Regions from separate parts of the Homo sapiens genome. Here region 1 is linked to region 2. Evidence: fine-mapped expression QTL. A gene starts in region 2. The other region holds a variant in brackets. All regions are shown on one strand. Distances are between the middles of the regions. Region 1 overlaps GLB1L2 (galactosidase beta 1 like 2). Region 2 holds the start of GLB1L2 (galactosidase beta 1 like 2).

The links. PIP is the estimated chance that this variant, and not a neighbour inherited with it, causes the effect.
Region 1: its variant is the best candidate, but not a certain one, in a credible set for the expression of GLB1L2 in lung (TOPMed, PIP 0.52).

What each region holds. Positions count from the first base shown.
Region 1 is chr11:134,368,623-134,372,965 of GRCh38, reverse strand. It overlaps GLB1L2 (galactosidase beta 1 like 2), which reads right to left. Exons shown (of 19, transcript NM_001370461.1): 10 at 4,185-4,322; 11 at 3,081-3,161; 12 at 2,567-2,673; 13 at 1,818-1,958; 14 at 1,474-1,545; 15 at 1,136-1,214. Among named protein-coding and RNA genes, the nearest start is that of GLB1L2, 39 kb to the right of the region's middle. The variant A/G (reference allele first, on the strand shown) is at 2,718.
Region 2 is chr11:134,330,010-134,334,392 of GRCh38, reverse strand. GLB1L2 (galactosidase beta 1 like 2) reads right to left here and starts at 2,405. Exons shown (of 19, transcript NM_001370461.1): 1 at 2,246-2,405. The coding sequence starts at 2,331. RefSeq lists a silencer at 2,256-2,555.

The DNA of each region.
Region 1 (4,343 bases), 39 kb before region 2:
AGGGAAGCAAAGTTAGGAACAATGGTCAGGCTGGTGCTCCTTCCAACTCCCAGGAGAACAACAGAAGTGAGGACAGGCCCAGAGAGGGAGCTGTCTAGGGTAAAGGAGTGTGGGCCTGGGTGGTGCTAGATGCCGCTCTGAGGCCCATCTAGAAGGGCCCTGATCCCCAGGATCCAGGCCCCAGTGTCTGGGCCACGTGGCTTTCCTGGCAGGCCACCAGACGGCTCTCGGAGGAAATGTGGACCAATAAGAGCTCTTCAAGTTTCCTCCGTCACAAACGCAGACACCGTGAGAGAGCTGGGAGGTCACCGGTGCTGCTCACCACAGTCGCATTCATTTTGTTCTGAGTTCTTTTTTTATAACTTACCTGAAACCACCCACATTTAGCTAGATTTTTTTTAAAAAGGAAGGGCTAAATTTGGGCACGGTGGCGGGCGCCTGTAGTCCCAGCTACTCGGGAGGCTGAGGCAGGAGAATGGCATGAACCCGGGAGGTGGAGCATGCAGTGAGCCGAGATTGCACCACTGCAGTCTGGCCTGGGTGAAAGAGCGAGACTCCGTCTCAAAAAAAAAAAGGAAGGGCTAAATTAAAGCATAAAAGATTTAGTAGGCCAGGAAACATAAAGCAAATTGGCGGCCTATTCCCAGAGGGGTACGCTACCAACAGGTGTTTTGTTTGCTGTATGTCCCGCATCCTCCTCCCCCAACATCTGAGATAAGCTTTCCCAAGATGGATCAAGAAGAGAACTTCAGTGTGGAGGCCCAAGAAGGCAGGGGTCTTGTGCCTTTCCTTGGATTCCTGGAAATCACATTCATTGCTCCTCACTGCCGCCCCCCCAAGCAGACATCCTTGCAGAAACCGACTGCAGCCCAGGGGAGACAAGAGGCCAGCTCAGTGTTCACAGTGTTTATCACGAGCACGCAGACGATGCACGCGTGCAGTGCTAACAGGACAGGGGCCACAGCCCAGCGGAGTTTCTCTGGCCCACTCAGAACTGGCCTCATGTATGGGACAACCCAGCCTCCACCTCCCTGCAAGAGGCCTCCATGGCCTGGTGGCCTGCTAGCATAGAGAAGCAATAGCCACCTGTGTGTCCAGCATGGCCACTCTTCTTTTGACACATTCTGGGACCCACCTTTGCGCTGGTCATCAATATTCTCCCCATAGTTGACTCGCCCACGATTCTCCACCAAGATCCTCAGCACGGTGTAACCCTGCCGGGAACACGGGGCTAACGATGACTGTCAGAAGGCCACAGCTGCCCCTCAGAATTTGCTTGTGGACCCCAGTTCTTCCCTACGCTCTGGGGATGGGAGTGTACATCCCAGCTGGGCAGAAAGCCACACTCGCCCTCTCCACCTACAGCTTGTGGGTAAGGAGCCACGGGTCTCCCAGGTTTTCCTCAGTGACTGCCCCCAGACTTCCTCGAAGCAGCGGGGGCTAGCCATCACCCAGCTCCCAAAAACAACGAACCTGGATCAGGGGGACAGCAATCTTCGTTGTCTTGTAGTCCAAGAATCCTATGGATACTGTGTTCACAAACACCTGCCAAAGGGAACAGGCAGGAACATCCATGACCAACAGGAGGAGGGTAAGCGGGACCTCCTCCAGGCCAAGAAGGGCAGCACGCGTGCCTGTAGGCAGACGAGGGGCCAGTGGGCAGAGCAGACATGAATGCCCCCTGAAGGCTCACAGAGCTGACTCAGAAGGGCCATTGTCACACACTGGTAAGAGCTGATTCTGAGGGGAGGGCATGAGACGCCTATTGCAGAGCTGCTCACCAGAAGGTCACAGGAATTTAGAAGAGAAGCTCCTACCTGCCCCCGATCATGCACGTGGCCACTGAGGATGCCAGACGAGGTGATGCTGGTCTCATAGAGAATGTACCCGAAGGACTGTCCATTTCCCCCATTGACTGGCAGGTTCTCCATGTTGATGGGCTTTTCAGACTTGATTGGCTGCGTACAGAAGAGATGGAGGGGTGGGCAGGCTCAGGAGGAGTGGGGTCACAGACAGACTCTGCCTGGGGGCTGGCACATGGGGTGGAAGCGGAGGTTTGGTGGGTGTTTTCTACTTTGACTTCTCATTGCACTAAACATACAACTCTCCAGGGTGACGGGGAAGAGGAGTGGGGCAAAGGGGTGTGCACCAGCAGAGTGCAGTCCGCAGGCAGGGGACACACATCACAGCCTCAGTCCGCCGGAGGAGGCACCCCCTTCTTGGGGAGGGGACGGCCTGTTCCTCTGCCCCTCACTCTCCTCTCTGAGGCTGGAGGAAGGAAAGGCCCACGGGGCCAGCCGCTGTTCCTCAGGGACCTCTGTTTCTCCCACTTCACACTCCAGCATGAGTCTGTCCTCTTCCCTCTGAGCTCCAAGGCCGGAGAGCAGACCCCAGAGCCACCAGGCACTGGCCTGCCTCCCCCCACACTCCCTGTCTGGAGGGGCTCCAGGCCCTGCTGCCCCGACGACTCTCACCTCCCGCCGACGACTGCCCCCAGCACTCACCTCCCTGCCAACGACTGCCCCCGGCACTCACTCACCTCCCGATGACTGCCCACAGCACTCACCTCCCCCAGGTACTTGAGGGCGTCCCACAGAGACAGGTACAAGACTGGCGTTAAGGGCTCATACGGCATCTTGGGAAGAAGGTCAGGTGGGGGAGGGAGAGGGATGCCTGCAACACAGAAAACAGGGTCACCCCCAACGGACCCAAATGTC[A/G]CTGCCTGCTCGTCCTCCCCACCCGGCTCCCATCCACAGACCCGATGTGCTCCTGCGTCCCAGCACCAAGAGGAACAACAGGCTAGCTCTCAGCACCTGCTGAGGCCAGGGAGGAAGGCCAGGCCTGGGGGAAAGCCAGGGCGTTCTCCCGTCCTCCACAGGAGATAAGGAGCGTTAACACCTGTAACAGGTGAAGCCGGCAAGATGGAAACAGCCTCACACACCTCCCTGTCCTTGTCTAGGATATTCTTGCACGCAGATCAACTGGGGTCGAGGTGGGACAGTAAGGAAGTAACTCTTTAGGGGTCTGAGAGCAGAAGCGAGGGCCTGAGTTGGAACTTGAGTCTGCTGTCTGCTGGGTACCTGAGATGGAGCCGAAGAAGTCTCGAAGCTTCATGTACTTGGCCGTGTAATCGCCGGCTTCTGTCAGCACAGCATCATAGTCTGCAAGACACCGGGCCCTGTCATGGTCATTCCTGTCCCCAGCACAGCACATGTAGCACGAAGAACAGGGAGAAGCTTGGAAGGGCCACAGGTCTTCATCTCAGCCATTGGGGAGGCAAGACACTTTTGAGCCATTCAGTCAAAATACTGTAAACATGAAAGACCAGGCAACTACAACAAGCGTCCATAAGGCCAGGTGCAGCGGCTCACACCTGCAATCCCAGCACTTTGGGAGGCCAAGGCAGGAGGATCGCTTGTGCAGTGGCTCACACCTGTAATCCCAGCACTTTGGGAGGCCAAGGCAAGAGGATCGCTTGTGCAGCAGCTCGCACCTGTAATCCCAGCACTTTGGGAGGCCAAGGCAGGAGGATCGCTCGAGGCCAGGAGTTCCAGACCAGCCTGGGCAACATAGCGAGACCCCCACCTCTACAAAAAATTTTAAAAATTAGCCAGAGGTGGGGGTGCACACCTGTAGTCCCAGCTACTCAGGAGGCCGAAGCAGGAGGATCACTTGAGCCCAGGTATTTGAGGCTGCAGTGAGCTATGATCACACTACTACACTCCAGCCTGGGTGTCAGAGTGATAACTCTCTCACAAATTCAAAAAAACACAAACTGTCCATGATCACAGCATGGCCCTAAATTTCTAGCTGCAGGTGTAATTTCTACTTTCTGGGACTCTCAACCTAAAGGAGGCAGGATCACACCTCCTCAAGGGCCTGGGCAGGGAGGGGAGGCCACCGTCCCTCCCTGTCCCCCTAGGGCGGTCTCCTTCCACTTCCTCAGGCCAACCTTTGCCAAAGAGGCCTCTCTGTAGAGTGACCAGCTCACAGGCACACCACCTCCCTTGAGGCTTCCCTCCTCTGGGAGTGTAACATGACTGTCCAGGCAAGTACCTTCTCCAGGTACTCTATTGCCAAAGACACGAAGGTGCCAGAAGTTGACCCTGAGGGCCTCTCCATAGCAAGTCCCAGCCATGCCCATGCAGGGCAGACCAGGGAGAGCAGTGCTGATGAATACTTGCCATAGCTGGTGACATCTGACTTGTAGTCATGGAAGTGCATGGCTCCATTCATGAAGCCAAAGTTGGTGCCTCCGTGGAACATGTAGAGGTTGATGGAGGAGCCGGCGTCCACAATGGCAGACACGGTTTTCAAAACCTCTGCCGGAGGAGGGAGAAAGG
Region 2 (4,383 bases):
ACCCACCAGCTATGACTGACCGTGAACCAGCCCAAGGAAAAGTTGATGAAAAAAAAGAAAAGCTATAGCCAAACATCCCCCAGCCCATGCCAGCCACTGTCCAAATACCTGCCTTCTGCTACAGGAAAGGGGCTGCTCCTGACAGCTCGGCTCCACAAAGAGTGAACTTGGTGGCCAGTTTCCACGTGACCTATATTCCACTGGCCACCTCAACACTGCCCAGTAACAGCTGGGAGAGGCCCCACCTCCCACTCAGTTAATGACCCAGTCAGAGCTGGGGCAAGACAGGAAGAGGGAAAGACAAAGAGGATGTTCTCCTCCTGCCTCCAGAGATATTACAGCAACTCATACTCACTGGTGTCCAGCCCAAGTCAGACAGGAGGAACTGGCAGAATGTACCCATGAGGGTGAAAAAATCAAAAAGATGCCAAAAAGACACGTATTCCACAGGATCTGAAGACACGGCCCTGAACTTGGTTCAGAGCTCCTTGAGCTTCTGTTCTACCTGCTAGAAGGATGGAGAGGCAAGAAAAACATCCTTCCCAGGCAGGCCAAACTGTTTTCACAGAATTTGGTTGCAGCTCTTTATTCTCTGTTGCCATTCCACCTGCTCCAATGGCCCAAGACTGACTCCTAGTGCGGTCACCCCACCTAGGTGGGGACACAGTTACCTCACCTCAAAGAAGCTCAGGCGTCTTCCCAGCTAGGTCAGCTCCCTGCCACCTCACCTCTGTCCCACCAAACAATAACAAACCCTCAGCCTCCTTCGCATACCTTTTCCTGGGGACTTTTTGGGTGTACCACTCAGCCCATCTCAAGCCCACAGTGCTGCCCCAAATAGTGACCTGCCTGGGTCCCCTGCACGGACTCCTGTATCCCTGACCAACAACAGGCCTGCAGCCGCTAGCCTTTCTCTTGGCAGCTTGCACGCCTTGCTACCCTGCTGTATGCAGGAGGATCTGCTGCCGCTGCTCTGAGTAATTCTTCTGGGGTTTGCGTAAGCCTTGCACAGGGAGGAAAGCTGAGCATCCCACAGGAGCCAGGGCCAATCTTCAGAGAGGAATGGCTTAGAGATCTTAGGCAGGACAGAAAACATCTTGGGAACAACCGGAGAAGTTAAATGCCTGAAGTTTTCTGGGCCCCAGAATGAGAAGAAAATCCGTCCTTCTCCCAAACAATATCATGACGTCCCCACTATCTCAGAAACAAGAATCCAGTCTTGACAAGGTGTAAACATAGAGTTTGTCAGTGTGTTCTTCTGGCCACAAAGGACTTCCAGATATTTATCTCCATCAAAAACTTCCCTGTCTCCCAGGGGAAGTGCAGAGAAACTAAGAACTTAGTTTCTCTAAGTAAAAAAGAAGCAAATGACAAAGCCGAGCGGCGTAGGGCCTGCCACCACTTCCAACCGTTCAGTTCATTCGATACTGCCGGTCGGCTTCCCACTGGAGGTTTTGAATATGGAAAGTGCTGACCTGAAAGATAGGGTCAGGGCTGTAGAATCCTTAAAATAAGCACAGTTTAGAAAAATGCTGGGCTAGGGCACCCAGAAAACTTTTTCACAGGCTGTGGGTAAATCACAGTATCACTGAAGCCACTCCTTTGCCATAAACAACATTTGGAAAAGGGGGAGAGGAAAGGGTGAGCTGGTAACAGGTGAATGGTGGGAAAGTGGAGAGAGACGACCTATCAGTCCTACTGTGCAAATAAATCATGGCCCGGGATCTTGGAGGCCCACGGACACTGTTCTTACGACCCTGCCAGGCCAGCTGGCTAGACCATACCTGCCAGGCTGAAGCGCCGGCCTCTGCGGAATAAGGCGCCTCCCAGAGGCTTGGGAGGAAAAGGGGGGCCTGGGGGAAGGGCAGAGGGAGCTCTCCGCGGAGCAGTGGGGACGGGGCCGCGATGGGGTGCGTCTGAGAGGGCTCTGACGGCTGGAGGGCTGCGGGCGTCCACGGGGGGCAGAGCCCGGCGTCACAGGCGCGGCGGGGTGGGCGGCTCGGGGCACAGACGCCGGCTCCCGAGGGCACGCCGGGTGTCGCCCAGAGGCCTGGATCGCGCGGCAGGAGTAGAGTGCCTGCAGCCGCAGGGGAACTCGGGGGTATTGGGGAGCTCCCAGAAAGAAGCAGCTGGGGCTGCTCCCCCCGGGAACTCGGGATTCGCGGGTCGCGGGAGGAGAGAACCCGAGGTGCGGAGGGCTGGGGAATGTGGGGTCCGGCAGGTGCTGCGCGAAGCTCTCTCTCACCTGCGGAGCACCAGGAAGCCCAAGACGACCAGCAGCAGGAGTCCCAGCGTGCGGGCCGGCCTCCGCCGGAGGCTCCACGTGGTCATCGCGTGTTCTCTAAGCGCGGGGACCCGGGTTCCCACTCCAGTCCGCACTCAGCCGCGCGCGGGAGCCTCGCCGCGGGGGGCGGAGCCGCGCACTGGTCGCCTGGGCAACCGGCCCGCCGGCGCTCATTGGCTGGGGCTCGCGGCTCCGCGCCTGCAGCCCTAGGCCTCGCGCAAGCGGGGGCGGGGCTGGCCGGGGCCGGGGCGGGGCCTCTGTCGGGGGGGGGGCGGGGCGGGGCTGGTGGGCGGGGACGAGGTCTCGGTAGGAGAGGGGGCTGGCGGGGGCGGGGCTGGCGGGGCGGGGCCCCGGCCGGGGGCGGGGCGGGGACAAGGTCTCGGTAGGGGACGGGTCTGGCCGGGGCGGGTCCCCAGTGTCGTGGAGCGGTGCAGAGTCCGCCGTCTTTCTGCTCGCGAGGCGCAGGCGGGTGCGGGAATGCTGCGTACCTGTCAAACGCCGAGGTAAAGTCGCCCCTCGCAGCGCTACATCAGGAAGAACGTACAAAAGGCGTCCGCAAAGCAGGGGCAACCAACAGAATCTTTTAAAACAATTCAGATTCTGAAGCAAACAACTTTTTCAATAACAAATCATCCTGTGAAAAGCCAGGATTTTGAAGAATTGTATCTGGACACATTTCAGTGTGGTTCATGTCTGAGGAGGGGGGGTTCCAAATATTTTCTGTCTTTGGTTTCTGCGAGTCTTACTCTGGCCTTGACTCCAAGGGCTTCCAATTTTTTATTTTAAAAAGGTCCATATAAAACTCTCACATTTTAGGAAAGGAAGAATATCATTCTTATTCTGAAACAGAATGTATGTCCCAAAGAACATGATGTAGTATTTCGGTGCAACTTACACTGTAGCAATCACAAACCCAACTCCTCCCGGGAACAAAATTCAGATTTTACTGAAAGAAACTCGAGGAAGGGCAACGTTTTCCAGAGCATCCGGGTTTGTCGAATGTCTCCCTTGCCGCATGCTTTGAATTCATTTCCTAAACGGGGGCATAGTTTTGAACTTGTAAAGCCGACAGGAACCAAATGAAATTGCAGATCTTGGAACAAAGACACAGACTTGGGTATGAAGTGTCCTTTGTCTAGCGTTAAGCACATATTTAGTCAAGGAGCAAAAGTTAAATCAAAGAGAGGCAAAAACAAACGAACAAACAAGAGGAAAAAAACCCTGGCAGAACTGGGGAGGATAAGCTGGGCTTGGAGCAATCCGGGTCTGACTTAAGCACCGCAAACATTCCCAGAGGCGCGCAGAGGGAGGCCCACTCCCGTGGACGCGCTCCAAGCCCGCTCCTTTTCTCCATTGGGTAAGGCTATGATTGCTTGATGGCTATGAAGTCTGTGATGGAAACATGTTGGTTTAATTGGAATATACCAGCTAGCCCCGAAGCGTGTGGAGAAATTGTCAAAGGCTAGCCCCTTTGCCTGCAGGGGACCATCCGAAAGACATGCACCCCACATTCATCCTCTCACTTCTGGTCACGTTGAACAGTGGCAGAATCTATCAAATATAAGGGAATTCTCAAATGGTTTAAGCAATACAAGCATCTCCATTTTTCTTCAAACGTTAGCAAAAACTTAACATGGGTTGTGAAAACCGTGAACTCCTTGGCCCACCCTTGTATCCTTCGTTTTTATTTGTGCGAGAAAAATATACATAACTGAGTGTTTTCAAAAAAATTTCCCCTTAACCTTGTGGGATGTTCAGAACTAGGGACACACCCTGCTCACAGTCTAGGAACAATTTTACTTTATCTGGGCTTAATGATACCACAGAATGCTACAAAGTTAGCACTAACCCGAGATGCGTCTTGCTCATAGGCTGAGACTTTTTTTTTTTTTTTTGAGACAGAGTCTCACTCTGTTACCCAGGCTGGAGTGCAGTGGTGCAATCTCAGCTCACTGCAATGCCTCCCGGGATGCAAGCTATTCTCCTGCCTCAGTCTCCCGAATAGGTGGGACTGCAGGCACCCACCACCTTCCCCGGCTAATTTTTGTATTTTTAGTAGAGACGGGGTTTCACCATGTTGCCCAGGCAGATCTCAAACT